Linked DNA regions of Homo sapiens: region 2 is linked to region 1. Evidence: fine-mapped expression QTL. A gene starts in region 1. The other region holds a variant in brackets. All regions are shown on one strand. Distances are from middle to middle. Region 1 holds the start of RNASEH1 (ribonuclease H1). Region 2 overlaps LOC124907725 (a long non-coding RNA gene).

The links. PIP is the estimated chance that this variant, and not a neighbour inherited with it, causes the effect.
Region 2: its variant is the best candidate, but not a certain one, in a credible set for the expression of RNASEH1 in whole blood (TOPMed, PIP 0.50).

The regions. Positions count from the first base shown.
Region 1 is chr2:3,552,291-3,567,410 of GRCh38, forward strand. RNASEH1 (ribonuclease H1) reads right to left here and starts at 6,043. Exons shown (of 8, transcript NM_002936.6): 1 at 5,843-6,043; 2 at 4,499-4,614; 3 at 1-18. The coding sequence starts at 5,970. RNASEH1-DT (RNASEH1 divergent transcript) reads left to right here and starts at 6,096. Exons shown (of 3, transcript NR_038429.1): 1 at 6,096-6,708; 2 at 7,158-7,439; 3 at 9,027-9,460. RefSeq lists silencers at 5,705-5,804, 6,175-6,494 and enhancers at 5,895-6,144, 7,809-8,706, 12,250-12,299, 12,350-12,399.
Region 2 is chr2:3,520,206-3,535,325 of GRCh38, forward strand. LOC124907725 (a long non-coding RNA gene) reads left to right here. Exons shown (of 2, transcript XR_007086195.1): 2 at 2,701-3,889. It also overlaps a transcript of RNASEH1 not described here. Among named protein-coding and RNA genes, the nearest start is that of ADI1, 8.2 kb to the left of the region's middle. RefSeq lists enhancers at 1-34, 8,401-8,460. The variant T/G (reference allele first, on the strand shown) is at 8,006.

The DNA of each region.
Region 1 (15,120 bases):
CATGTTGATTTTCATGCCCTGAAAGACAAGAGTCCACTCGTGAGCTGGAAACAATGAACATAACACGAAATGCTAGAGAATGAAGACATTCAGTAAATTATTTAGTATCATTAAATCAGACTTAAAAACACCCTCTCTATGTGGCCCTACAACGAGGGAAACGAGGGAATGACCCCCTCCACGCCATCTCCACCCCCTCCACGCCATCTCCACCCCCTCCACACCACCTCCACCCCCTCCACACCACCTCCACCCCCTCCCCTCCACACCACCACCACCCCCTCCCCTCCACACCACCACCACCCCCTCCCCTCCACACCACCTCCACCCCCTCCACAGCATCTCAATCCCCTCCACAGCATCTCAAGGGGCTCTTTCTCCAGGAAAAACATGGCCCAAAATTGTGTATATAACATCAGTGGTGTTGCTGGGCGCAGTGGTGTGTGCCTATAGTTCCAGCTACTCGGGAGGCTGACATACGAGTATCGCTTGAGCCCGGGTTTGAATCCAACCCGGCCAACATAGTGAGACCCCTTTGCTTAAAAATAGATAAATCTAAAAAAAGATGAGTTGTGTCCATGGTTCAGCCTCTCCCTGCCTCAAATACAACTACATGGACACGAAGTTAAGAACCCCTAGGAGGGCTCAGAGGGTGCAGGTTCATCTAGCTTGAATAAACAGATAATGGGACATATTAAGAAAGGAAAACAGGGCTGGGAAGCCGAGGCGGGCAGATCATTTGAGCTCAGGAGTTCAAGACCAGCCTGGTCAACATGGTGAAACCCTGTCTCTACTAAAAATACAAAAATTAGCCAGGCGTGATGGCGGGCACCTGTAATCCCAGCTACTCAGGAGGCTGAGGCAGGAGAATGGTGTGAACCCAGGAGGTGGAGCTTACAGTGAGCGGAGATCGCGCCACTGCACTCCAGCCTGGGCGAGAGAGTGAGACTCTGTCTCAAAAAAAAAAAGGAAACAGAAACCAGAAACTAAAAGGAAGCAACTGGGTCCCTTCAGGGTCAGTACTCTTGCAGCTTTTCTTTTGCAACAAAGTTTTTCTTCTGCAACGAAGTTTTTCTTCAGGGGGACCTCAAGGTTAATCCCAAATAGTTTTTTTTTTTTGAGACAGAGTCTTGCTCTGTGCCCAAGCTGGAGTACAGTGGCGCGATCGTGGCTCACTGCAACTTCCACCTCCCTGGTTCAAGCAGTTCTCTGCCACAGCCTCCCAAGTAGCTGGGATTACAGGCACCCACCACCACACCCAGCTAATTTTTTTGTATTTTTAGTAGAGATGGGGGTTTCACCATTTTGGCCAGGCTGGTCTTGAACTCCTGACCTTGTGATCCACTGCCCTGACCTCCCACAGTGCTGGGATTACAGGCGTGAGCCGCTGCGCCCGGCCCCAAAGAGATTCTTAATACCACCTCAGGGTTATCTGGGAAGGGCCCATATCTCACTCACTGGGTAATACTATGGCAGCTGAAGTAGAACAGCTAAATTAGACCAGGACTCAAAAAACCAGTTTCAATTTGTGCTATACCTTTTATCAGCTGCGAACTCCGTCAACTGAATTAAACCCTCTGGGCTTCTGTAAAACGAGGCCCTGGGCTAGATGATCTCAAACGACTTTTCCTTACATGGAGTGAAAATAAGGACACAGGAGCAACCAACTACCTGCAAACTAACAACCCTAACCCAACACTACAGGATTCACCTCCAGCTCTCAACTCCTAAACCAGGGATGGAGAAATGGGGCACGAACATCACAGAACGCCTACTAGAAAGGAACAAGAAAATGTCCAGCCTAGTGGAGCTTCTCAACCCACACCTCTCGGAACCCTAAGGGCGCCGGGCAACACTTGACTGTGATCAGCACGACGTCAGCAACAGCTGGCGTTTCCACTGCCACATTTTGTTTTCACACACTCATCTCCAAAACGTTCCTCTAGGTACTCTACTGAAGTAAATGCAGATACTGTGGTCCAGGTTAAAGTGTCATTTTGTAGAACCTTAACACGGATATAAACACTGGTTTTACTTACTATAACAGAGATGGACACTTTACAGAACAGATAAGACTTGGAGGAAAAAAACACACTTGTCAGTTAAGTTTTACTTCACAAAATTGTGGTTTTTAAGTAAATTAACCTTAAATCAGCTTATATAAACCATAAGAACCAGTAAATAGCTCAATAATTCTAAAATAAGGATAAATGTAATGTTAAAAAACAAAAAACTGTAAAAGGGGCTAAGACTTTTTGATACAGATCTGAATCATTAAAGGCACTAAATCTCAATTTATAGACGTAAGTCACTGACTAGGAGGTCTCTAAAGTTTAAAGAAGTAGATTCAAAAGAACTAGCTTGCTTTAAGAGTCAGAGTACTTAATAAAAACAGAAACATACTTATATTGGAAGACTTGAGATACAAATAAATTACTGATTGGTTAAAAACAAAAAATTTGTGAAAAGGAAAACTGAAAAGGAAAATTAAGAAAAGGAAGTATCAGGAACCCAGCAAAGAAGGAAAAAGCCATATTTTCAAACCTGCTTTCTGTCTCAAACTGATTTTTCCATCTGGGTAGAAAAATGAACAGCTGTAACAGCGAGGAGGCGGCTCAGCATTACTGCCTCCATTCTCCCTTAACATCCCCATAGTGGTATCGTATAGGCCGAGTGAACTATGGGAAGAATTTATAGTTTAAAGCAAGGATGACAGTGGTCCGTTCCCAAAACTAACCCCCAAGGAGATAAAGAGGGAGTACACACAAATAACAATGTTATGTTGAAGACTTATAGGAGGAGCATCATGGCCTGACCAAGGACAGAGAAGTTTCACAATCCCCTTGGACCCTCGCTGCCATCCAGATGTCTGTGCTCATCGGTCTCCTCCTGATCTCACCTCCGCCTTTCTTTCCCCTTCCCTTAACATAAAAGAAGTCTCAAGTTCTATTAACTTAAGATGGTTCTTCAGGACACTAGTCCACCATCTTCTTGACTTGCTGGCTCTCGGAAAAAAGTCGCCTTCCTTGCCCCAACACCTTGTCTCTCAGCTTATTGGCTGTCATGCAGTAAGCAGTAAGAACTGTCACATCGATGAGCCTTTTTCACGTGTCCTCATTCTCAAACAGAATCTCCTTTAAAAGCTATTGAAGAGAGAGAGGGTGAAGCAGATGCACTGAGTGAGGGTCGACCCTGCTTTGCAAACTAACTCTTCAGGGATCCATTCTGGACACAACCTGCCTCGCTCTGAATTGTGCTTTGTCCAGGATTGTTACGATGATTCGAAGGAGCAGTTGTTCAGGTTCAAGCATCTCAGTGGCCTCTAGAGAGGCTGTTCAAGATAAGGTAATTAAAACTATGCTCTGCTCAGTCTTAATTTGCTATAGTAAAAAGTTTGTAAGTAACATTCACGTAAGATCACCTCCTCAGTGTAGATCCAGAAATATTTTTAAAATCTTGCGCTCTAAAGTCGTCACCCTGCTCATCTGAGTCTGCATAATGGGCTTTAAACTTCCAATTATATTGGGAATTAATCTTATATTGGGCTTTAAACTTTGAATAACCGTACTTTCTATAACACATAAAATTGGAAGAAATTGGACAGGCGTGGTGGCTCATGCCTGGAATCCTAACACTTTGGGAGGCCAAAGCAGGTGAATCATTTGAGGTCAGGTGTTTAAGACCAGCCTGGCCAATATGGTGAAATCCCATCTCTACTAAAAAAAATACAAAAATTAGCCGGGCGTGGTGGCACGCACCTGTAATCCCAGCTACTCCGGAAGCTGAAGCAGGAGAATCGCTTGAACGCAGGAGGCAGAGACTGCAGTGAGCCAAGATTGTGCCACTGCACTCCAGCCTGCGCAACAGAGACTCTGTCTCAAGGAAAAAAAAAAAGAAGAAATTCAGATTGTGTGACTCTGTTCTCAATAAAAAGGCAACACCACAAAGGGGCATGCCATGGAAAGAACCACACTCATTCCTGTAAACTGTAGCCCATCCAGTCCAATAACTATGTAAGTTTTTTTTTTTTTTTTTTGACGAGTCTTGCCCTGTCACCCAGGCTGGAGTGCAGTGGTGCAATCTCGGCTCACTGTAGCCTCCACTTCTCGGGCTCAAGCAATTCTCCCACCTCAGCCTCCCGAGTAGCTGGGATTACAGGTGTGCGCCACCATGCCCAGCTAATTTTTGTATTTTAGTAGAGATGGAGTTTCATCATGTTGGCCAGGCTGGACAAGTATTTTTTTAAAAAAAGACAAGGAATTATGGCATAAAAGGCTGAATGGAACAGGAGAGCTGAGTCCTGGCTTATCCCTAATACTGTAAGTAATATGAACCACTATTTGTAACTGCTTTCAGTCTGTTCCCTAATTTGTAAAATGAAAACAATCACACGAGGTTCCCTACATGCCTAGAGGGTAGCTATATAGATCAAATGCCATCTGGCATATGAAAGCCTTTGAATAGGTTAAAATGTCACACTGATATGAGAGGTGACTACCTTCTGAAACTTCCGGGCTTGCAGATTTCCTGACAAAGGCCCAGGCCTCATCCTCTGTGGCAAACTTCTTAAATCTGGCAGCAGGAAACCGGTCCACCTGTGCTCTGCACTCATTCCTGGAAAAGATGTGCAATGTTATTTCCTTCTTCCTTCTCTAACTTATCCCCTTTTTTATTGAGATTCTTAAGGTTGGAAATACAGTTGTCCCTTGGTATCTGAGGGAGACTGATTCCAGGAAGTCCTCCACCCCATCACAGATACCAACATCAGAGGATGCTTAAGTCCTTTGCATAAAATGGTGTATTTGCAAATAACCCACACACATCTTCTTGCATGCTTTAAATCATCTCTAGTTTATAATACCTAATACAATCTATATAGTTGTATTGTCTTTTTATGCGTATTTTAAAACTGTATTCTATTTTAATTTTTTCCAAATATTTTTGATCTATGGTTAGCTGAAACTGAGGATGCAAACTGGATATAGAGGACCAATTTTTGCGTGAAAAGGGCAGAGTCGCACCTTATAGTTTTATCCTGCACGTCAGACTCTACACCTGTGTTCTACTGTATGCCAGCCAGCCAGCACACCAGCACCATAAGGCTTTCGTCAAACTCAAAGCATAACAAAATACTGCGGTCTTTGAAAAAAATATTAACCATTTCTTTACAACAAAAAGGTCAACTTCTGAGATGCTTCTTCCTCAATACTGTAGCTGCCGTGCATGGGGAAACACAGGTAACGAACTTTGGTATCTTGTAGTGGGAAGAGTTCTGGTGGTACAGTCAGAACAGCTGGGCTCAAGTCCTTTCTCTGTCAGTTACATGCCCTGGGAACTTCCTGACCCCAAGAACTATACCTGAAAGTGAGAATAATCCCTCTCACCTCCAAGGGTTGTTACAAGGATCCAACTGCAAATACTGGCTTATTAGAATTTGCCTTTTTTAAAAGGGAAGATTAGGTACTGAGTTCCAATCCCAATTTAGCTGGTACGGAAAGTCTTCTGGTAACGGGGGTTCGTTCTGATTACGTGTCACTTTTTGTTGCACTTTAACTGCAACAAAGATGGAGGATTAAACACAGGGTTTATTAGGCCACCCCTAACCTTTACGCGACGTTTCTGATATTTCAAACAAGTCTTCGGTGCGTTCCAGTCCCAGGCCATGAGCCTCCTGGAACCCCGCCGGCCGAGCAGGAAAACGAGGCGGTCCCCCGACCACCCACAGCCACAGCGCGCGGCACAGACTCGGACCGCCAGGCTCCCGCCGCCGGGGTTAGCCGGGCTCCGGCCTCCCTCGACCCCGATGCCGGCAGGGAGGCGCCTCGGCGGGCGGGCCACTCACCAGGTCAGAAAGACCCCGGTCTTGCGGCCCCTCCTCACGGCATAGAACATCCCGAACCCGCGAGAGCCGCGGCGGCAGGGCAAGGCGGCCAAGGCGACTCTGTGGGCCAGGAACAGAAGCCAGCTCATCGCTCACTCCCGGCACCGGGAAGCATTTCGACTCCCGGCCCAGCGTGGGCGCGAGCCGCCGGCGCTCAACACCGCACTTCCGTCACCGGCGCGGGAAGATGACGCACGTCTGGGCGGAGTCCTGATGAGGGCCGGGGCCTAGGGAGGGGCGGTGTCGTAGGGCGGAGCCCGGAGCTCGGCCCCTGACGAGCCCGAACTCGTCAACTTCCTGTCGGTACTTGAAGAAGCGGAGCCAGGGCTGAGATCCCGAAGGCGGGCGAGGTCTGGGATGGGGCGGGGCCTATGGGAGCGGGGCTGAAGCCCTGGGCCCGGCAGAGGAAGGTCGAGATGGACCATGTTGGGCCCCTTCTCTCCCCGCCCCCAGGCCGCAGTTCGGGGGCCACGCCCCGGCGTGCTCGGGTCACCGCGGGAAGCCCTTGAACCCCCTGGCGCCCGGCACCCACGTGCGGTAACCGCGGCTCCTCGAGAGCTCCAGGGATGCGGATCTACAGTAAGGGCTGTGGCCAGATGAATGAATGCACATTTTTTAGTGGGCAGAAAGATGTTAGAATTCATGAATTAGAATAAGCACAAAGGAGGGCGAGAGGGGAGGCCGTGGAAGCCGCATTCCTCCCCTTGCCTTGGGCGCCCACCCCCGAAGGGGCGCGTCCCCTCCCTGCTCCACTGCACGTGGGTGTTTAACCAGGGGATATCCAGTGCCTCAAGCACCACGACCCGGGAGAAAACTGAGTTGAGAAGGTAACTTTTAGAATTCTCCCCATTTGACCTTTTGCTCTGTAAGCAAATCAAGTAATTTTAAAAGTGTTCATGGGTTGGAGGGGCGTGGTGGCTTACGCCTGTAATCTCAGCACTTTGGGAGGCCAAGGCGGGTGGATCACCAGGTCAGGAGATCGAGACCATCCTGGCCAATATGATGAAACCCTGTCTCTACTAAAAATACAAAAATTAGCCGGGCGTGGTCGCCTGCGCCTGTAATCCCAGCTACTCAGGAGGCTGAAGCAGGAGAGGCGCTCGAACTCGAGAGGTGGAGGTTGCATCTGGGCGACAGAGCGTGATTCCGTCTCAAAAAAAAAAAAAAAGTCTCCATTGGCAAACATTGTTATTCGAATTATTTTTAAACCACTTTTCTTTAATTTTCTTAAGGTCTTCTAACAAGCCTTTTGCACACCTGCCATGTATTTTGTCAGGCCTTGGGGATGAAGGTGAGAAATTCGAGAATCCCCGGAGATAACACATCAGCAAATAGTGCGCAGGCAGAACAAGCTGTTGGAGGTGAGAGACACAGAGCAGAGAAGCACCCGCACCTGGAGAGTCAGGAGGGCCTCACATCAGAACGCCTGAGCAAATACAGTTTTGAAGGATACTAATTTTTTAAAAAGTTCATTCACATGAGTTAGACAAAGAGAAAGAAGCAGGACATTCTAGGAAGAAGGAACGGCCCAGGCAAAAGCGACGCGTACATTGGCGTGGTAAGTTGTGTTCCTCTGTGAAATCGAAGAACATCTTTTTTTTTTTTTTTTTTTTTTTTTAAACAGAGTCTTGCTGTGTCGCCCAGGCTGGAGTGCAGTGGCACGATGCACGATTGGGGCTCACTGCAACCTCCACCTCCCGGGTTCAAGCATTTCTCCTGCCTCAGCCTCCCAAGTAGCTGGGATTACAGGCGCCCGCCATCACGCCTGGCTAATTTTTATGTATTTTTAGTAGAAACAGAGTTTCACCATGTTGGCCCGGCTGGTTGCGAACTCCTGACCTCAAGTGATCCGCCTGCCTCAGCCTCCCAAAGTGCTAGGATTACAGGCATTAGCCACTGTGCCTGGCCAAAGAACATCAATTTTAAACATTTCAGCTTTCCTAATTTTAATTTAAATTGGCCATAGCTTTCATTCCTCATTCCTACCTATTGCACTTCAAGACGGATTCTTATTTTAAAATAAAAAGACACACACAGCTGTCCCTAAAGTCCATTTATGACTGATCATCCTACCCTTGTGTAGATATCTGAGGAAGCCCAGAGATGCCCGGGAAGGCTCTCAGGATGACCTGACAGCTGCCCCCACCTCGTCAGCATATCTGAGGGTTGACCTACCAAGGGCTTGCTTTTCTGTGCCCACTGGCTGGTCCTGTATCACAAGGACTCATCTTCCCTGAGAAGTCCTAGGTTGGAATTACCTGAGGACGCTTGCAGGATCATCCACATGACTTTCCACAGTGCCAAAACCCTCTCTCTTCCTTCTTCCTTCCTTCCTTCCTTCCTTCCTTCCTTCCTTCCTTCCTTCCTTCTTCTTTCCTTCTTTCGTCTTTTCTTCCTTTGTTCTCTTTTCTTTCTCCTTTCTTTCTTTCTTTTCTTGTTTCTTTCTTTTCTTTCCTTTTCTTCTTTCTTTATTTTCTTTTCTTTTTTTTCCGGGTCCTACTCCAACGCCCAGGCTAGAGTGCAGTGGCATGATCTTGGCTCACTGCAACCTCTGCCTCCTGGGTTCAAGCGATTCTCCTGCCTCAGCCTCCCGAGTAGCTGGGATTACAGGCATGCGCCACCACGCCCAGCTGATTTTTGTATTTTTAGAGACAAGTTTTCACCATGTTGGTGAGGCTGGTCTTGAACTCCTGACCTCAAGTGATTTGCCCACCTCGGCCTCCCAAAGTGTTGGAATTACAGGCATGAGCCACCACGCCCGGCTGCCAAAACTATTTATTTTGACTTTTCATTGACTGGTTACTCCTGAAAATCTTTTTTTATCTTAATCTCTGGCTCATAGAAATATAGGACATTTCTTATCCTGAGCAAACACTGGATCAGAAATCAGAAGATGAGTGTATATGTGGTCTCAGTCACTTAGCTCCTTTGAAACTTAATTTTCTCTACTGAAAAAAAAAAATGGGAGTGATAATTCCCACTGCAAAAGGCTTTTGTTTTGAGGATGAGATTTTAGATGAAATAATAAATGTATGCATAGCCTATTCCTGACACATGACATAAACTCAAATAAAAGTCACTATTGCCATTATCTATTATACTCTGTAAATTAGGAATAACAAAACCATTTCTGCTTATTTCTCAGGGTCCATTCAAGAATTGTGCCCACAATATACCAGGCACTTGTCCAGACCTGCATCGTCCAATGCCCACCTCGACCTCCCAAAGTGTTGGGATTAGAGGCGTGAGCCACCGCGCCCTGCCTGCATGTGGCTATTGAGATGTGCTGTATGATACACACCGGACTTTGAAGACTCAGTGTGAAAAATAAAAAGAATTTTAAGAGGGGTGGGGGTCGAGGGGAGGCAGAGCAGTAGGACAAATAGCTAATGCACGCAGGGCTTAAAACCTAGACAACAGGTTGATGGGTGCAGCAAACCACCATGACACATGTTTATCTATATAGCACCTACATGTTCTGCACTTGTATCCTGGAACTTAAAATTAGAAAAAAAAAATAATAAAAGCCAACATGGCATTCATTACTGCCAAAAAAATTAAAACACATTGTTAATTTTGTATATTGATTACAGGTTGAACTGATAATATTTTGAATATATTGGGTTAAAGAAATACATTTAAAATTAGTGGCTAGGCACAGTGGCTCATGCCTGTAACCCCAGCACTTTGGGAGGCTGAGGCGGGTGGATCACCTGAGGTCTGGAGTTCGAGATGAGCCTGGCCAACATGGTGAAACCCCATTTCTACTAAAAATACAAAAATCAGCCGGGTGTGGTGGTGAGTGCCTGTAATCCCAACTACTTGGGAGGCTGAGGCAGGAGAATCGTTTGAACCCGGGAGGTGTAGGTTACAGTGAGCCGAGATTGTCCCACTGCACTCCAGCCTGGGTGACAGAGTGAGACTCCATCTTAATAATAATAATAAAACTATTTCTTGCTGTTTTACTTTTCTAATGTGACCACCAGAAAAGTTTAGATGGCTTGTGTGACTCTCATCATTGAACGGAGCTGTTCTAAACATGGGTAAGACAACGCAGAGCTTCGGTTGCAGGACAGAGAATGAAATAATAGACCCATAAGACAGATAAGTGACTGATTGTGACTGCTAGGGTGTTTACAGCATAGGCCGGTGACAGGAACGAGGAGTGTGGGGATGAGAGCCGACGTGGGCGAGAGTGCATGCAATGCAGGGTCAGACGTTGGATTCATCTCTCAGGAGTTGAAAAAGGTGGCGTTCCTGTTCTTTATTGGCATTGCTTGTGACACGAGGATTGCCCCTCTTCCTGAAGAGGTTGGTCAGGAAAATTTTTTGTTAACTTTTATTTTAGGTTTGAGGGTCCATGTGCAGGTTTGTTTCATGAGTAAACTCATGTCATGGGGGATGGGTGTACAGATAATTTCATCACTGAGGAATAAGCCTAGTACCCGATGGGTATTTTTTCGGATCTTCTCCCTCCTCCCATCCTCCACCCTCAGGTAGGCCCCGTTGCCCACCGTTCCCCTCCTAATATCCCTGTGTTCTCGCTGTGGAGCTCCCACTTATAAGTGAGAACACGCGGTGTTTGGTTTTCTGTTTCTGCCTTAGCTTGCCTCCACCTCTATCCATAGTGCTGCAAAGGACATGATCTCGTTCCTTTTTTATGGCTTCATGGTATTCCACGATGTAAATGTACCACATTTGCTTTGTCAAGTCTACTGTGGATGGGCATTTATGTTGATTCCACATCTTTGCTATCATGAATAGTGTTGTGGTGAACATACACCTGCATGTGTCTTTATGGTAGAACGATTTAGATTCCTCTGGGTATATACCCAGTCATGGGATTGCTGGGTTGCATGGTAGTTCTGTTTTAAGTTCTTTGCAGAATCACTATGCTGCTTTCCGCAATGGTTGAACTAATTTGCACTCTCAATATTATATTGTCTATAGCTGAGAAAGCTGAAATGTAAAGATTAAGTCACTTGTCCTCAGACATGTAGACAGGAAGTGGTACAGCCAGGACTCAAACCTGCCTCCAGAGCCCGTCCTCCTAAACCTAAGTCATGGTTTTCAAAGTGTGGTCCTTGGATCAGCAGCAAAAGCACCACCTGGGCACTCATTAGACATGGAAATTCTGGGCCTCAACCCGGACCTCAGCATGGGAATCCCTGGGGGTGGAGCCCGGCGGTTTGTGTTTGGGCAGCCCCAGCTGACTCTGAGGCACCATCAGGTTGGAGGCCACAGTGGGTGATAGTCCCTGCCCTGTGGTAGCAGCCGGCCTCCCTCCTTCATTTCTGTTATTCCATCTCCTTCTTAAAACAACCCTGTGAGGCTGGCAGGGCAGATGTCGATTTTATTTAACAGATGAAGAAACTGACCCTTGAGGTTTTATGACTTACCCAAAGTCATCGCATTAGTTTTGGAACTGAAACTTCAATGGCAGATCTTCTGGCTGTTAGTCTGAGACTGGAACTAGTACCCACAAGGACTCTGGGAGCAGTAAGGTCAGAGCAGGAGCTACTGCTTCATTTCATTGCCTCTAGTGAAGGAGGAGGGGGGTTCCCAGAGCACGGCTTCTCCATGGGTCTAGCCCATGATAGCTGGGTGCTTACCCTGATGTGCTGATGAGATTCTGCCTTATCTCCTGCAAGCCATTTGTGCTGTGCTAGGATTAAACAGTACACTTTGGAACCTTAGCTGCCCACACCCTGAGAGCCAATCACGCAGAACCCACAGGAAATCTCGGGGCAGAAGTAGTTTGCCATAAATGTCCATTTTCTCATTTTTTGTTGTTGTGACGGGGTCTTGCTCTGTCGCCGAGGCTGGAGTGCATTGGCGCAATCATAGCGCACTGCAGCCTCAACCTCCTGGGCTCAAGTCATCTTTCCACCTCAACCTCCAAAATAGCTGGTATTACAGGTGTGCGCCTCCTGTATAATTAAAAAAAAAACATGTTTTGAGGCCGGGTGTGGCGGCTCATGCCTGTAATCCCAGCACTTTGGGAGGCCAAGGCGGGTGGATCATGAGGTCAAGAGATTGAGATCATCCTGGCCAACATGGTGAACCCCCGTCTCTACTAAAAATACAAAAAATTAGCCGGGCGTGGTGGCAGGCACTTTTAATCCCAGCTACTTGGGAGGGTGAGGCAGGAGAATCGCTTGAACCTGGGAGGTGTAGCTTGCAGTGAGCTGAGATCACACCACTGCACTCCAGCCTGGGCAAAAAGAGTGAAACTCTGTCTCAAAAAAAAAAATGTTTTGAGGTTACAGGGAGCTATGATCACACTACTGCACTCCAGTCTAGATAACAGAGCGAGACCCTGTCTCTGAAAAAAAAGAAAAAAAATTCTTTGTAGAGACAAGGTTTCACTATATTGCTCAGGCTGGAATCAAACTCCTGGCCTCAAGCAATCCTCCTGTATTGACCTCTCAAAGGGCTGGGATTACAGGCGGGAGCCACTGTGCTCAGCCTGCATTTCCTGATGCAACTCGTTCACATTCCATCCATTATCAACAATCCCCACAACTTCACCTCCTGCCATGGATGCCTGAGGCTGGGGAAGGGGAACTTCATTCGGGTGTGGGCGTCACCTTAGCCACAGAGAACCTAAAAGAGTGATCAAGCCTCACCTGAGGTTGGGAGTTCGAGACCAGCCTGACCAACATGGGGAAACCCCATCTCTACTAAAAATACAAAATTAGCCAGGTGTGGTGGCGTGTGCCTGTAATCCCAGCTACACGGGAGGCTGAGGCAGGAGAATCGCTTGAACCCGGGAGGCGGAGGTTGTGGTGAGCCGAGATCGCGCCGTTGCACTCCAGCCTGGGCAACGAGAGTGAAACTCCGTCTCGAAAAAAAAAAAAAAAGACTGATCAAGCCGACTGAAAGTCAGGGTGCTCTGTTATTATAACTGAGCACCGGGAATTCTAAACACTGTCAGTGATAAATACTCTTCCCAGAAAAAAAACTTTCTTGTAATTATATGTGTATAATTCCATTTTTATCCCTAATCTTTTAACAAACATGTCTTACATGGGAGTTAATCCCAAGGGCTCCCAGCTATGCACTTGGTTCCAACACGTCTTCGTTCAGCCACAAGAAGTTTATTTGGTTCAGAAGCAGAGTGCTAGCTTCAGGCACAGTTTGATCCAGCTGATGGGCACTGCAACCTCCTGCATGTAAACAGCAGGTTTGAAGTGAACCGTGGTAGCACTATGACTATAAAGACAAACGAGGAGAACTTGCTTTACTTCACTTCATTCCATGTGATCACTTGTGCTTAAAATTTGAATCAGTGAAACAGGGCGGTGGGAACCGCAAGCTGAAATATTTTTGTTATAGTGTGGATTTTAGCTCATATATTACACATTTTACTGAATTCAAATAATGTCTTTAAAATTGAAATTTAGCCAGGAGTGGTGGCTCACGCCTGTAATCCCAGCACTTTGGGAGGCCGAGGCGGGATTTCGAGACCAGCCTGGCCAATATGGTGAAAACCTGTCTCTGCTAACAATACAAAAATTAGCTGGGCGTGGTGGCACGGGCGTGTAGTCCCAGCTACTCAGGAGGCTGAGGCAGAAGAATCGCTAGAACCCGGGGAGCCGAGATTGGGCCACTGCACTCCAGCCTGGGCGACAGAATAAGACTCTGTCTCAAAAAAATATTAAATAAATAAATAAATAAAATACAATTGAAATTTATTTTTTTTGGCCAGGTACGTTGGCTCATGCTTTGGGAGGTCAACGGAGGAGGATTACTCGAGGCCAGGAGTTTGAGACCAGCCTGGGCAACATAGTGAGATCCTGTCTCTACAAAAAAATTTAAAAATTAGCCAAGCGTGCCTGTGGTCCCAACTTCTTGGGAGGCTGAGGTGGAGGATTGCTTAAGCCTGGGAGGCTAAGGCTGCAGTGAGCCGTGACTGCACTACTGTACTCCAGCCTGGGTGACAGAGTGAGATCTTGTCTCAGAAAAAAAAAAAAAAAAAAAGGAAAGAAATTTATTGTTTTTTAAAAGTGTAATTGTTGGGTTTTTTTTTTTTGAGATGGAGTTTCACTCTCGTCACCCAGGCTGGCGTGCAGTGGCGCGATCTCGGCTCACTGCAACCTCCACCTCCCGTGTTCAAGTGATTCTCCTGCCTCAGCCTCCCCAGTAGCTGGGATTACAAGCACACGCCACCACGCCCAGCTCATTTTCGTATTTTTAGTAGAGATGGGGTTTCGCCATGTTGGCCAGGCTGGTCTCTAACTCCTGACCTTAGGTGATCTACCTGAGGCCTCCCAAAGTGCTGGGAGTGCAGGTGTGAGCCACCATGACCTGCCAATTTTTGGTTTTGAAACCGAAGAATAATTAGGAAAATGATGATTATTCCTATTACATGATTATAATTTAAAATAGTTTTGTTGAATGGATACGGGTGCTGAAATAATGCATTCTGGGTATCAAATGGATGCTTGGAGTGGATGGATAGATTGGATACCTGGTCCCTCCAAATCTCATGTTGAAATCTGATTCCTGGTGTTGGTGGTGGAGCCTACTGGGAGTCTTGGGGTCATGTGCCTCTTGGTGCCATCCTCTTGTCCCCTCGGGAAGGAGTGAGTTCTTGCTCTGTTAGTTTTTGCCAGAGCTGATGTTGAAACGAGCCTGGCACCTCCCGCACTCCTCTCTTCCTTCCTCTCTTGCCATCTGATGCCAGCTCCCCTTCCCCTTCTGCCATGAGTGGAAGCTCCCTGAGGGCCTCACCAGAAGCAGATGCTGGCGCCATGTTTCTTGTACAGCCTGCAGAACCTTGAGCCAAATAAACCTCTTTTCTTCATAAGTTACCCAGCCTCGAGTATTCCTTTATAGCAACACAAACAGGCTCGGACAGAACGCCACTGCTGCCTCCCCAACCCCTGTGAGTCCTTCCATGTACACACCCGCCTCGGAATCTGCTCATTGTGGGAGGACTCTCCAGCTTACCCACTGAGACTGAGTAGCAGTAGACATGCCCCCTTGCGGCCCAAGGAACGACTGGTTGGTACATTACTGTGCTAATGGCACTTTAATTGCAGACTTTCAGGGACAAGAAACTTTTGTGTTTCACCCCAGTAAATGACAGGCCCTAAAGTAAACTGTGAAGGACAATGCCAGCAAAAGTTTGAGGCCTGGCGCTCTTTACAGTAAGGCTTTGTGCGGTGATCTACCCGTTCCAAACCTAAGTTTCCTCGCTGGCAAAACAGGGATAAAGTTTCTGGTGCACAAAT
Region 2 (15,120 bases), 32 kb before region 1:
AAAGATCAGATTATCTCAGCCATTCCCTCAGTCTCTTTAACAAATAACGATAAAGCAGACAGGATTTAAATGAGACTGCTGTAAGAGCACAACCCCAATGCATGCAATTGACTCTTGAACTTCCAGAAATATTGCAAGAAAAATACACACTTATTTCATTTCTGTTCCCTTGCTCTAATGGCTTTGCAAATACATCCTCCTTAGAGAGCCTACCTCTCCACCTCTTCACTTGACCAGTTACTACTCATCCTTCAAGAACACACCTTAGACGCCATTGCCCATTTTTCTGCAGCACTCATGACAAACCTTCATGCAAGAATCTAATGGCAATCTCGCACCTCGCATTTTCTCCTTAAGCCACTGCAATAAGGCTTCGCTTCTCACCACTGGGGAACTGCTAATGACTGCCATATTGCCAGATCCAATCATGGCACTTCTGTTCTTACCAGCAACATTCGTCACAGTTGCCCACGCCCTTCTTGAAACATTTTCTCATTTTCCTTCATGAGGGCATCTTGGCTGCTCCTTCCCAGGCCCCTCCTAGCTCCTGCTCCTCTAACCACTGGTTAGTGGAGCGTTCCAGACTCTCCTCGTCCTGTTCCTATCCACTCACTCCAGGCGACTTTCCATGCTGTGCTGCCGGCTCCTGCAGCCACATCTCCAACCTGGACCTCATTCCAGAACCTCAGGCTTGAGTATCCAGTTGGTGTTGTCACATACATGGCTAATCAGTGTGTCAAACCTAACATGGCCAAAACAACTGATTCCCCACACACACCCCCAAACATGCTTCTCCCTAACCTTTCCCGTCTCAGTGAACGGCAGCACTGACTGCCCAGTGGCTTAATAAAAAAATCTAGGTGTACTCTCAGTTTTGCTTTTCCTCACCCTCAAGATCCAATCCAATCTATCAGCAAGTCATGTTGCTTTGACCTTCGAAACACACCGCAAATCCATTCACTTCTCTCCAGCCCAACTCTTTCTGCAGTCTTTTCTTGCCTGATGGAATTGACTACTGAAATTCCCCCTCCTCACACCGCTTCCATTTTTGCCCCAGTGCAATCCATTCTATGCACAGCACCCAGAGTGACCTTTTAAAAATAGGAGCCAGATGCCAGGCACTGTGGCTCACGCCTGTAATTCCAGCACTTCGGGAGCCCAAAGAGGGTAGATCACTTGACCAGCCGAGGCAACATGGTGAAACCCCGTCTCTACTAAAAGTACAAAAATTAGCTGGCCGTGGTGGTTTGCACCGCTAGTCCCAGCTACTCTGCAGGCTGAGACAGGAGGATTGCTTGAGCCTGGGAGTCTGAAGTTGCAGTGAGTTGAGATTGTACCACTGCACTGTAGCCTGGGTGACAGAGCAAGACTCTGTCTCAAAAAACAAACAAACAAAAAAACATGGAATCCAGTCAAGCCCCTTTTCTGCTTCAACCCTCCTTTCTATAGCCTCGGCCTGACCACCTCACAGCCCATCGCCCTCCTTTCTTGTTCTCTGTCCTCCAGATACTTTGGCCTTTCAGTGTATTTGAGTCATATGCTCCTCCTTCCTTTGGGCCCTTCACCCATGCAGTTTTTCCACTGAAAATGCTCTTCCTTCCTCCAAGTACTTTTCTCCTATACAAAATTCTAATTTCAGCTTAACTATCCCTTTCGTAGAGAAGCCTTCTCTGACCACTCCCTAGACAACTAGATGGGCTCTCCGTGTGAAACACTGCCATGGTGCTAGCTTAGAGTTTGTAAGGACATGTTGACTTGATGTCTTTTCACCAAAGGACTGACCACTCCATGTGTTGTTTGGTACTTGCTGAATGAATGGATTTGTCTGTATTGCTGAGTGCCGCATATACCTTGAGGTCAGAGAATGTGTCTTATTAGTCCTTCAGTGCTTGGTACATAGTAGACAATTTTTTTAAAAGTTTGTTGAATGAAGGGATAGGATGAGGAACACTCCAAATAGTCTTTACTGTCTTACTGTAACTGCACTCCTATCTCATATCTAATGCTTCTCATTTACTAGAAAATAGTAGTACTAGGCTGGGTGCTGTGGCTCATGCCTGTAATCCCAACACTTTGGGAGGCCAAGGTGGGAGGATCACTTGAGGCCAGGAGTTCCAGATCAGCCTGGGCAATACAGCAAGACCCCATCTCTACAAAAAATATTTTTATTAAAAAGAAAATAGTAATTGTGACAATAATAATAGTAGTGTGTGCTGGGTAACATTTTAAAGATTTGATGCATATTATTATTTTTACTCCTCATGATTACACTGTGAAGTTGGTATGACTTATTATCCACATTTTAAAGATGAGACATGGGAGGCTGAGGCAGGAGGACTGCTTGAGCCCAGGAGTTTGAGACCAGTCTGGGCAACACAGCAAGACCCCATATCACTTAAAAACAAATGAGACAACTAGGACACAAACAGGTGAAGTAACTTATGGTCACACAACCAGAAGTGACAAAGCTGGTATTTGAGCTTGGGGAGCCCAGCCCAACAGCCTGTACACATAACTGCTAAAATCGAGTACAAGAAGTAATGATGTGGGTTTCATCCCATCGTAGAATAAACTTCATCTTGAAATTGGAAGAGTGCTTCCGGTTCCCCTCCCACCCCCAGGCTGCGGCAGCCCCACACCATTATGTATCTACCATTTGTCAGCCTCTGTCTTCAGTAGCTGTTCCTTTTTTCCTATTAGGTATGGGGGAAACAGTTTTATGCCATAAAAAACATACTTTAGAAAAGCAAGATGATGGAGAGGCTCTGAGGAATTGCCAAGGCAGCCCAGCACTTGCTGCTGGCAGGAGTTCAAGCGGGCAGAATCAGATGAGAACAGCACTCATTACTTCATACGGACATTGCCGGCCCATGGGATTCCTCCTTTGAAGAGGAATCTTTGGAACTTGAACTGTCTCTTCCAGAAGAATAGCCAGCAGCAGCCCAAAAATATGTTTCATGACCAGAATTTATCACCCCGATGTAAGACACTTGGGAAGAATCTGTTTAGATGTTTTGAAAGACAGATGGTCGCCATCGCCGCAGACCTGCGCAGACTGTTATCCGTCTGGGCTTTGTGATATGCTCCCAACCCAGGGGCGCGTTAACAAACCATATAGGGATACAGTAGAGCCACAGAAGAACAGGAAGATCCAAACTGCTGGAATGTGGAACGCAGATAAGGCTCTATAGACGGGCAGCAAGTTTTCTCTGGAAAAGGCCAGATAGTAAATCGTTTAGGTTTTGTAGATCGAGTCAAAATTGAGGATAGTATGTAGGTATTTATACAACAACCACATTACAGCATAAAAACCATTCTTAGTTCATGGAACATACAAAAACAGGCAGCAGACTGAATCTGGCTCATAGCCTGGAGTTTGCCAATGCCTGCCATGCACTATTAATAATAGTTAATTTTTATCTGATGATCAAGTGTACTTTACTTCTGGCCTGTGGAAAGAACTGCCAAGAGTCGGAGATGTTTACACTCTGCAAGCTAAGAAATTAGCCTGTCCCAGATTCATGGGTGTTAACAGAAGTCAAGAGATTATCGGCTCAGAGATAAAACACAGCCTATTACTCAGGAGCAACAGCGGTAGCAGGGGCCACAGTGTCTGCAGTTTTGCACAGGTTGCTGAACGCCAGTCCCCACCAAGGGAACTTGAAAAGGGATGATACCTGCATCTTCAGTGGGTTGCATTACAGGGGAGGAACTTTGAGCTTGGGAAAACCAAAATATTTCCCTGAGTCATACTCAGCTATTCAGCAGAAATGCTTCCTGTGTACTTCCCAATTTGTCACAGAGAATGTTAGAAAGATGTCTACTCAAAGGTCAAAATTTAATAAAACCAGTCATTTTTACAGCTTCATTAAAGACATTCTTAAGAGAAGCGGGGGTTTGTTTTTGTTTCTGTTGTTCCAGTGCAGGTGTGTGAAAAACACAATGACTGCTGGTACAGTGTGTACCATGTCGTGGCTCTCTTGGGCACGGAGAGCTGAGCCCATCACTGACTTTGCACCATGAGGGCAGTGCTCAACACAGAGAAGAAGGTACATGTCATCCTGGCATTGTGAGACAAATAGTTTTGACTTCAAACATCTCCATACTGTAAGAACCACAGCTCTCATCTTTTTTGTTCAGGGTACTTTAGGTTGCAGGTGACAGAAATCCAACAAGTTGGCCAGGCGCGGTGGCTCATGCCTGTAATCCCAGCACTTTGGGAGGCCGAGGCGGGCAGATCGCAAGGTCAGGAGTTCGAGACCAGCCTGACCAACATGGTGAAACCCTGGGTATGGTGGTGCACACCTGTAATCCCAGCTATTCAAGAGGCTGAGGCAGGAGAGTCACTTGAACCCGGGAGGTGAAGGTTGCAGTGAGCCAAGATTGCGCCACTGCACTCCAGCCTGGGCGACAGAGTGAGACTCCATCTCAAAAAAAGAAAAGTCCAAGTTACCTAAGCAAACAAACGGGAACAAAGATATGTTGGATCACATAAATGAGAAGGGTTAGAGCAGAACGCACCTTGGGCATGGCAGGATTCAGGGCTGAAAGTATGTTAACAGCTCTGTCTATGTCTCTTTGTCTCTATCTTCTCCATATGTGTGTGTCTCTCTCTTCACTTAGCTTTTCTTCTCTTCTCTCCCTCTTTCTGCCCCCTTTTCTCCCTCCTGTCTCTCTTCCTCCCTCTGTCTCTCCTTCTCTCTTTCTCTCTCTCCTCCCTATCTCAACCCTCTTTTCTCTGTGCCTTGTCTGAATACTCAGCTACTAAAAAGAGCTCTCTGCATGGGTCAGAAAACAGCCGCCAGTAGCTCTAAGACTGCACTTGCTTGCAATTCAAGGCAAAAGAGCTCTGTTATGTAATGATGGGATATCCAGTCTCATGGGAGATTCCAGACTGCAAGCCCTTTAGATCTCTCTGGGAGCCCGAGGTGCAGACTCCACTACCCTGGGCCTGGCCGGGTGCCCAGTCTGGGAGGTGCTCTGCCTGGCAGCCCCTCAGCCCCACGACTGGTCAGGGAGAGGGGCGGTGGAAGGGCAGACCGACAGGCCAGACGTCCATGACAAATACTAAGCTGCCAAGGTGTCCTACTGGTGAGTGTTTCCAACAGCTTGCAAGTGAAAGAGACGAGCAAAGCTGCTCTCAATGCCACGACTTCAGGTCTCATACCCTCCTGGCTGTTCCCTGTTGAACCCAGTCTGAGTGCTGCCAGGGCAGACACCATTCTGTGGAGGAGGCTGAGTCTACACCACTCTTCCTGGGAGGGCCAAAACTGACTTAATGTCTTCTAAATGGAACAGCCTGAAGGGCTTGCTGGGAAATAGAGAAAACAGTAAGGGACCAGAGGTATGATAAATAATGGAAGACGGGTGGATGGCTAGAAGCTGCGGAGGAGCACCTGGGTAAAAAGGGTTGTTTCAGGAGCAGTTGACAGCTGACAGCTAAGAATATAGTATGTTTGCAGTGAAAGCAAGGGTGTCTCTATAAATAAGCCTGGGGTTAACACTAAGACCTGTGTAATGACAACCAGTGAGACTGTCCCAGACCCTACAAGTCAAGGAAGGCAGGCAGGTTCACAGATGATACCTAAAATGACAGGAGACTGTAATAGATTCCTGTATCAGAGTCACGCCTAGTACTGCACATGAAAAAAAACCACTTCCAGAATACCGTTCCCAATTAGGGTAGCAAGTGTTGATAATTATTGAAGGTAGGTGACAGAGGTATTTGGATGGTCAACAAACCATTCTCTTGTGTATTTCAAATTTTTTGAAAATTTTCAATTTTAAAAAAGTTATGTTATCTATAGGCCGGGCGCCGTGGCTCACGCCTGTAATGCCAACACTTTAAGAGGCTGAGGCACATGGATCACCTGAGGTCAGGAGTTTGAGATCAGCCTGGCCAACATGGTGAAACCCCGTCTCTACTAAAAATACAAAAATGAGCTGGGAATGGTGGTGGGCACCTGTAATCCCAGCTACTCGGGAGGCTGAGGCAGGAGAATCGCTTGAACCTGGGAGGCAGAGGTTGCAGTGAGCCGAGATCATGTCATTTCACTCCAGCCTGGGTGATAGACCACGACTCCATCTCAAAAAATGATAATAATAATAATAAAAAAAGTTGTGTTCTCTATAAATCAACAAGCAACCCATCTGTGCATGTAAATTTTCTTAATTGAAAAAAGGGAGTGTGGGTATGGATTTCTTCAGAAAGAAGCAGCATATTCAGAAACAGCTGCCTGGAGGACACAGTCAGCAAAATGTGGTTGAAACTAATTAAAAGGAAAACATTTCTCTTGATCTTCATACATCTTCTTTGAAGTAAAGATGGAGGTTTTTTTCCTGGGAGAAAATGCAGGCTGGTTTACAGCATTTCAGTGAATTATGCCAGACCTCCGTGCCCCCAGGATGAAATCTAACCACATGTCCATTCCAGGGTATCTCATTCTGCATTTGTCATCATCTTCAAGGTCACACTGCCCCCAAAACGTTTCCCAAAATGTGTCTCATGTCACCTAAGTTGTGAGGTGAATAGCAAAAAGGGTTTTGAGGTTAAAAAAAAAAATGTGAGAAAACCCGGTCCTAGCTCCGTCCTGGGCAGTGGGAAGGCTTGCGATGAAGACACTGTTTCAGGTAACACAACTGTTGGCTCTTAGGGCAGAGGCATCTACTGACTCCGAAAATGTTCCATAGAACATTCTTCGGTGAACACCAATGTTGGGGGCTGGGAAGGCCAAGGCAGAGAAGCAAAAACCCAAGAAGGGCGAACGACTCGAGTCGCTTTAGGAGTCGGAGAGGTGGCTCCACGCTCCTTGGCCGAGTCACCACCAGCAGGCCGGCAGCACGGGCTCCACACACCCTGACTCCGGAGCTTGGCGTCCCGGGACACAGGGAGGGCGCAGGGCTCAGAGGCGCGCCCCCCCCCCCACCCAGCCTGCACTCTTCCCCCAGTCTGCAGGGCGCCCCCCTACCACCCCCTCAAAAGAGAAAAATCACACAGGGTGGGGCAGAGAGCGTGGCACAGGGTGGGAGCGCAGTGCTGTGTGCGCGGAAGGGGGGTTGCTGGTGTGTGGTGTGTGTATGGTGTGTTGTGTGAGGGCAGTGGTGTGTGCATATGGTATGGTGTATGTTGTGTGCTGTGTGTGATGTGTGTCTGTGGTGTGTGTGGTGTAATGCCTGTTGTATATGGTATGTGTATAGTATGTTGTGTGTTGAATGTGTGTGGTATGTGTATGTTGTGTGGTGTGTGTGATGTGTCTGTGGTGTGTGTGATGTGTGTGTATACTGTGGTGTGTGTTTGGTGTGTGTAATGCCTGGTGTACGTGGTATGTGTATAGTATGTTGTGTGTTGAATGTGTGTGGTGTGTGTATGGTGGAGTGTGTATGGTATGGTGTGTTGTGTGTGTTGTGTGGTAAGTGTGGTGTATGGCGTGTGTGGTGTGACATGGGTGTGGTGTACTGTGTCTGTGGTGTGTAGTGTGTTGTGTGGGGTGTGTGGTATAGTGTGATGTATATGTGTAGTATGGTGTGTGTATGTGGTATCTGTAGTGTAGGGTGTGATGTGTGGTGTGTGTGGTGTATGTATGGTATGTTGTGTGGTGTGTTTATGGTATGGTGTATGTGTGGTGTGTGTGATGTGTGTATGGTGTGTGGTGTGTGTTGTATGTGGTGTGTGTGGTATGTGTTGTGTGTGTTGTCTATGGTGTGTGTGGTGTGTGTGCTGTGGTGTATGTGCTGTGTGTGGTGTGTGGTGTGTATGGTGTGTTGTGTTTGTGTTGTCTATGGTGTGTGGTCTGTTGTGTGTAGTATGTGTGCTGTGTGTGTTGTGTGGTGTGTGATGGGTTTGGTGTGTGTTGTGTATGGTGTGTTATGTGTGTGTTGTCTGTGGTGTGTGTTGTGTGTGGTGTGGTGTGTGGTGTGTGTTGTGTGTGGTGTGCTGTGTGGTATGTGTTGTGTGGTGTGTATGGTGTGTGGTGTGTGGCGAATTGTGTGTTGTGTATGGTGTGTG[T/G]TGTCTGGTGTGTGGTGAATTGTGTGGTGTGTGTGGTGTGTGTGGCGTGTTGTATATGGTGTGTTGTGTGTGTGTGTGTGTGTGCGCGCGCCCTTGCGTCTGCACAGGTGCTGGAGGAGCCGTCTGCGTCTGGGGAGCTTGTGGGCCGAGGCGGTGGGAGGCTGGTGGGCGGCGGCGCAGAGTCCGGAACCGTCTGCTGAGCTCCTGGCCCAGCGCTCCTCAGCCCGCGGGGATCCCACCCTCATCTTGAGCCTCTGGGGAGGACCGAGAGTGAACGCTTCTGCAGCCGGGCTGCCTGCGGCTCTCTCGGGTGTAGGGCACAGCAGCCCGATGCCAAAGCCGGGCCTGGCTGCTCCACCTCACGGGCCACCTCAGGGGGTGTGTCACACTGAGAAACGCCGCCCGCCCGCAGAGTGACGCCTGGACCCTGGCCTCTCATCACACTAAGATCCCCGCTGAGGCCTGCGCGCTGCTCCGTGACCCTTCCTTTGTGCGCATGCCCTGCACTCTGCCCACACGTGCAGGGGCATTCACCACACTGGGGAGCTCTGCGCGTCGCCCTCCTGGAGACTGCAGTGCACGCCCCTGGGGAGCCTGCGAGCCCCCGCCCCTGTGCCACCTCCCTCGTGCCCACCTTCCCGGGCGCAGCTCTAAACGGCCTTGTCGGGGAAACTCGCCCGGCCATATGTTGACTTCTAACACGTTGAGAGCCAAGAGCCACATGGCCACATGTGGACATCACTTCCTAATGACCCGCAGGACTCCACTGCAACACGGAGCTGTCGTTTATGTAAATGCACTTCTATTGTTGCTTTTTAGATTTTTGCTGTTTGTGACTTTTATAAATAATGTTTCAAAAACATTCTTGTTCATGTTTTATCCACTTTTATTATTTACTTAAGATAAATTTTAAAACGCACCTATCTATACCTGTGCAAGACACTGTCCTGGGGGGAAGTGTGTGAAGGAGACCCAGGGCCTCCTTGCACTTTTTCTGCACCTGCCTGTGAATCGATACTTATTTAAAAATACGTAGTTTTAACATCACGTTAGCTTCAACAACGAACGGTGCTGGAACAAGTGAATATCCCACAAAATACATATGCACACGAAACTTGGCTTATCTTCTTTAATTTAGCCTGAAGGAACTAATTTTCTGAATTTAAAATGCAGAAGCTGGATTTGTAGCTTGAACCTGTGGTCCCAGCCGCTCAGGAGGCAGAGGTGGGAGGATCGCCCCAGCCCAGGAGGTCCAGGCCGCGGAGCGCGGTGATCGCGCCGCTGCACTCCAGCCTGGGCCAACACCAACCACCACACCACCACCACATGTATGTAGTTGTTTGCCATGACTGTTACTGTACAAATTGTGGAAGGAAGAAATATGTACTAAAATCTCCAGTGGGACCCGCATGTCCCTACTGACAGACATTTCAAGACACCTGAAACTCTGAAGCAGTCTCGTGATGTGCGCAAAAGGCCCCCATTCTGTGTGCCTCACGCGGGGCAAAGCTCTGGGCCTGGCGGCACTGGCCACCCTGCCAGCCTCAGGATCACCCAGGGCAAAGCATCGCCCTTCACTGCCCCTGCCCTCTGTCTCCCATCTCACCTGCCTGCACTCCTCTGTGTATGGTGCCCTGGGACACAACGCCAGCGATCTCTGAACGGGCACCCATTCTCTCCCTCCAGCCCTGTCAGTCCACTGCTGTGCCCTGGCCCGGCCCCGTTGCCACCATTGCAGTGAGCCACAGGAAGGGCCCCCACCCTGGACTGGGTGGTCCACACTGCAAATGACCCCGGCCCACAGCGGGGCTTAGGCAGGCACCATTTTCTGCTGAAATGCAAGGAATCCCTTTTCCTAAAGGCCAGAAACACATCTAACTGATGGTGCTTAGCTTGGAGGCACTCACTACCAATTTATCACCCGAATGGAAAATGTTGAGGGAGTGCTAGATGAGGCCATGAGATGTGAGACTGTGTAAGCGACACAGTGTGGGGAAGAAGGAATGAGAGTATTAGTAGTAGTACTACGGGGAAGAAGGAATGAGAGTATTAGTAGTAGTAGTATGGGGAAGAAAGAATGAGAGTTTTATTATTAGTAGGATGGGGAAGAAGGAATGAGAGTATTATTATTAGTGGGGGGGAGAAGGAATGAGAGTATTAGTAGTAGTATGGGGAAGAAGGAATGAGAGTATTATTATTAGTAGGATGGGGAAGAAGGAATGAGAGTATTATTATTAGTAGGAGGGGGAAGAAGGAATGAGAGTATTAGTAGTAGTAGTACGGGGAAGAAGGAATGAGAGTATTAGTAGTAGTAGTATGGGGAAGAAAGAATGAGAGTTTTATTATTAGTAGGACGGGGAAGAAGGAATGAGAGTATTATTAGTAGGGGGAAGAAGGAATGAGAGTATTATTATTAGTAGGGGGGAAGAAGGAATGAGAGTATTAGTAGTATGAGGAAGAAGGAATGAGAGTATTATTATTAGTAGGATGGGGAAGAAGGAATGAGAGTATTATTATTAGTAGGAGGGAAGAAGGAATGAGAGTATTAGTAGTAGTATGAGGAAGAAGGAATGAGAGTATTATTATTAGTAGGATGGGGAAGAAGGAATGAGAGTATTATTATTAGCAGGAGGGAAGAAGGAATGAGAGTATTAGTAGTAGTAGGAAGAAGGAATGAGAGTATTATTAGTAGGAGGGAAGAAGGAATGAGAGTATTAGTAGTAGTAGGAAGAAGGAATGAGAGTATTATTATTAGTAGGATGGGGAAGAAGGAATGAGAGTATTATTATTAGTAGGGGGGAAGAAGGAATGAGAGTATTAGTAGTAGTATGAGGAAGAAGGAATGAGAGTATTATTATTAGTAGGATGGGGAAGAAGGAATGAGAGTATTATTATTAGTAGGAGGGGGAAGAAGGAATGAGAGTATTAGTAGTAGGATGGGGAAGAAGGAATGAGAGTATTATTATTAGCAGATGATGGGATTGCATACCTGGAAAACTCAAGGAAATTAACAGGAAAAGTGTTAAGACACAGTAGGAGAGTAAGCAGGTATTGTTACAAAACAGTGGCTTTTCCGTATAAACAAGAACAGTTTCTAACAGCCTTAATAATTGCATTAAAAAGCAAATTAAGTTGGAACAAACTTAATATGCCCTAAAACTCTGCTGCCACCCTGTGCTTCCAGCATTTGCAGAAATTTGGATACAGCGGCTCTGTTCCTTTTGAGTCCGTGCAAAACTCAGGGACACTCTTCCAAGGACAGGATTTTCTAGCTCCCCATGATTGCGTGAGCCCAGGTGTTAGGACCAGCCTGGGCAACATAGAGAGACCCTGCCTTTACAAAAAATTTAAAAATTAGCTAGGCGTGGTGGTACACACCTGTAGTTCCAGCTACCCAAGAGGCTGAGGTGGGAGGATTGCTTGAGCCCAGGAGTTCAAGGCTGCAGTGAGCTATGATTGCTCCACTGCACTCCAGCCTGGATGACAACGTGAGGCCAAAAATAATTTCAAGAGATCATCATTAAAAAGCTGTGGGTGGGAAGTCTACAGCTATTTTAATTATAAACCTGATAGGAAAAAGTTACGTTTCCAGAAGCTGCTCATTAAATGTTTTGAAGAGTGTTTATTTGGAAGTTGTATCCAAGTTTTCTACCTATGGTCTTTGGTCTTCCCTAACACTTTGTACTTTATTTGTGCTATAAGTACAATTGTTGTAGAAGCCCAAATACCAGGTTCATGTACCTGCCGTATAGCTGAGGCCGAACACTGCGACATAGGTGTCTGGAGACAGAGAAAGGTTTATTCCATTTGGCCAAAGCAAGAAGACAAGACAGCAAGATTTCTCAAATCCCCTTGACAAAGAGATAAGGAGAGGGTTTTTATGCAGCTGACGAGTCAGGGAAGGGGAGTTTTGGGGAATGGAGGGAAAGTCCGTGTGTCTTCCGTGTCAGCTAACACTTTGAGCAGCCAGACCTCCGGGTGTCAGCACCTGGTCGCAGCACTTTCAAGGCATTCACTCCGTCTGCAAACATTTCTCATGACCCTCATGTTATCTCCTCCCGTTTGACAAAGAAACAGTAGATCAGCAGTTTATAATGATGCTGTGGGAACAAGAAATAATGGGTACAAAGCGAGTGGTTCACAGGTGCCAGCCAGAGAGGGCCCGATCAGAACGTTCATTATTTCAGTCACTCACTGAAACATGCTGAGTGCTGAACTCCCAAGGGGCCCCGTTACTCAGCCTCGCATCCCTTGACTGGGATAGGTTCTAAGGAAGGTGTCCTTAGGTGATTTCACACCCCTAGATGGTACAGCCCACTACACACCCGGGCCACGTGGCACAGTCTATGGCTTCTGGGCTATAAACCTGTACAGCAGGTCACTGCTCTGAATCCTGCAGGCAACTGTCACACAATGGTAAGGATTTGTGTATCTAAGCATAGGAAAGTTACAGCAAAAACACGGTATCATCATCTGACGAGGCCCCTGTTGAATATGCAGTGCATCATTGACAGAAATGTTGCTATGCAGTGCATGATTGCATGTAAAGAATTTAGTGAAAGTGTTCACTGAGGCCCAAAGAGATGCACCCAACAACGCCCTCCATTTGGCCCTGATGTGCTGTAGAAATCATATTTTCTAGCCGTACCCTGACATTATAAAGGCTGGGAGGCACCGCACTAAGGGGCATGGAGGCGCTCTCCCGCGCAGACAGGACTGATGGAGCTGCTCACCCTTCGGGCAGAGCGAGGCGAGAACCCAGGCCTCTGTGCCCACAGAGAAGCCGATCGTGCTGCCTCAGGGGAAGGGAAAGGACGCATAAAATGTCACCCGGGCCTTTTCTCCAAAGAGAGCCGCGAGGCTTGCTCCTTCCTCACACTGCCCTCTCAGAGCTCACCTCTCCTGGCACAGCCTGGTGCCAACAAACATCTTGCAAGCACTGACTGAGCCCCGGCCAGAAGTCTGGTTCTGTTCCAAGAGCTGGGAACCAAGAAGGGAGCAGAGAGATAAAACTTCTGCCACAGGGAGTTTATTTTCTAGGTAGGGAAACAGACCAAAATACATGCAAATAAAACCAGCGGAAAGCAGCCCACTGATGTGCTGGTCGATGTCTCACAGCAGCTCTGGGGGATGGCGGCCCCTGACCTGCAGCACTGGCTGATTTCTGCGGTGTGAGTCCTCCCACTACAGCCACCTCCAAACTCCCTGTGTGAAGGCACTGACCACGGAGTGGGGAAGGGGCCTCACTGCTGGCCCTCCTGGGCTGCTACGAGTCGGCTCAGGCACACCTGAGAGTTCCACAGTGACAAGTTACAGGAGAAGGAAGGTGAGCCAGGAGTTGCAATGTTTATGGGGAGAGATACATTTATGGGGAGAGATACGGGAGGTGTCACTAAGAAAGTGCCATTTGATGGCAGAGCTGCTGTGGAAAACAGGATGCCTGCTCCTCCAAGAGCCAAACAGAATGACCACATGACCCCGCAATCTCCTCTCCACGTACCTCCCAAAGAAATGGAAAGCAGGGACCCAAACAGGCAGGGGCACTCCCCTGTTCACAGCAGCATTCTTCACAAAGCCCAAGAGGCAGAGACAATGCAGGGTCCGTGAATGACGACTGGATAAGCGAAGCGTGGTCCCTCTGATAGTAGCAGAAGACAGATTCCTAGGCAGACTGGGGCAGGTCCCCAGTGAAGCCCGACCTTCAAGCCAAAGATAGCCTGAAGCTGGAAAACCAAGCTGCCAGTTCCAGGTTAAGTCCACGACCTTTTAGCCAATCGAATGGTGATTTTTTTCTAGGCCCGCCCATGGGCCAATCAGCACACACTCCCCCTTTCTGAGCCCATAAAAACCCTGGACTCAGCCACACAGCAGGGACTACCACCTTTGGGTAGAGACTACTCACCTTCAGGTAGTGGCTGCCCACTCTCAGGTCCCCTCAACGCTGGGAGCTGTTCCATCATGCAATAGAAGTTTTTTTCTGCCCTGCTCACTCTCTGGTTGTCTGCATAACCTTATTCTTCTGGATGTGGGACAAGAACTTGGGACCTGCAGAACAGTGGGTGTGAAAAAAGGCTGTAACACTGTAACCCTCCCTCCTGCTTGCTGAGCAGTGGAGGAGAAGAAACTGCTGGCTGCCACACACCCGTTTGCTGAAGTTGCGGGCGGCAGGAATGAACTAGAGCTATGGTGCTTCCCAAGAGCCCAGACATCAGACTCCCTGAACCAGGGCTGTAGCACGCCCTGCTCGCCAAGTCACAGGTGGTGGGAACGGTTGAGCTGTGACACCCTTGGGGCTCTGCGGTTCCTGGTGTCTCTGAGTTTTGGGTGCCACCACGTTCCCCTCATCCAGACACCGGTGCCCAAGGCAGAAGCGGGTTGCGGCATGCCCGGCCCAACCGCCGGCTGAGCGCGGATCCTGTGGCAAGCGTGGGATCTGGGCCGGGGTGCAAGCCGAGCACAGCCCACTGGGCCGAATGTGCAGAGTATCACCAGCAGTGATCCTTGGGCCGAGTGAGGCCAGGCAGGGGCGCCAGCGGCCATGGAGGTCTCCGGCTGGTGAAGTGGCACAGAAAAAATCCTGTGCCACATCCACACAATGGAGCATTCTTCAGCCTTAGAAGGAAGGGAATTCTCACACCTGCTACCATGTGGAGGAACCTTGAGGACATTAGGGTCAGTGAAATAAGCCAGGCCCAAAAGGCCAAATCCTGCATGATTCCATTTATACGGGGTCCCTAGAGGAGTCACATTCATAGAGATGGAAAGCAGAACAGTGCTGCCAGGGGCTGGGGAGTCCGTGTCCAACACGAACAGAGCTTCAGTCTGGGAAGATGAGAAGTTCTGGAGATGGAGGGTGCTGATGGTTGTACAGCAGTGTGAGTGTACCTAATGCCACTGAACTGCACACTTAAAAACGGCTAAGATGGGCTGGCCGCAGTGGTTCACACCTGTAAGCCCAGCACTTGGGGACGGTGAGGCAGGCGGTTCACCTGAGATCAGGAGTTCGAGACCAGCCTGACCAACATGGCAAAACCCTGTCTCTACTAAAAATAAAAAAAAAAATTAAAAAGCCAGGCGTGGTGGTGTGTGCCTCTAGTCCCCAGCTACTTGGGAGG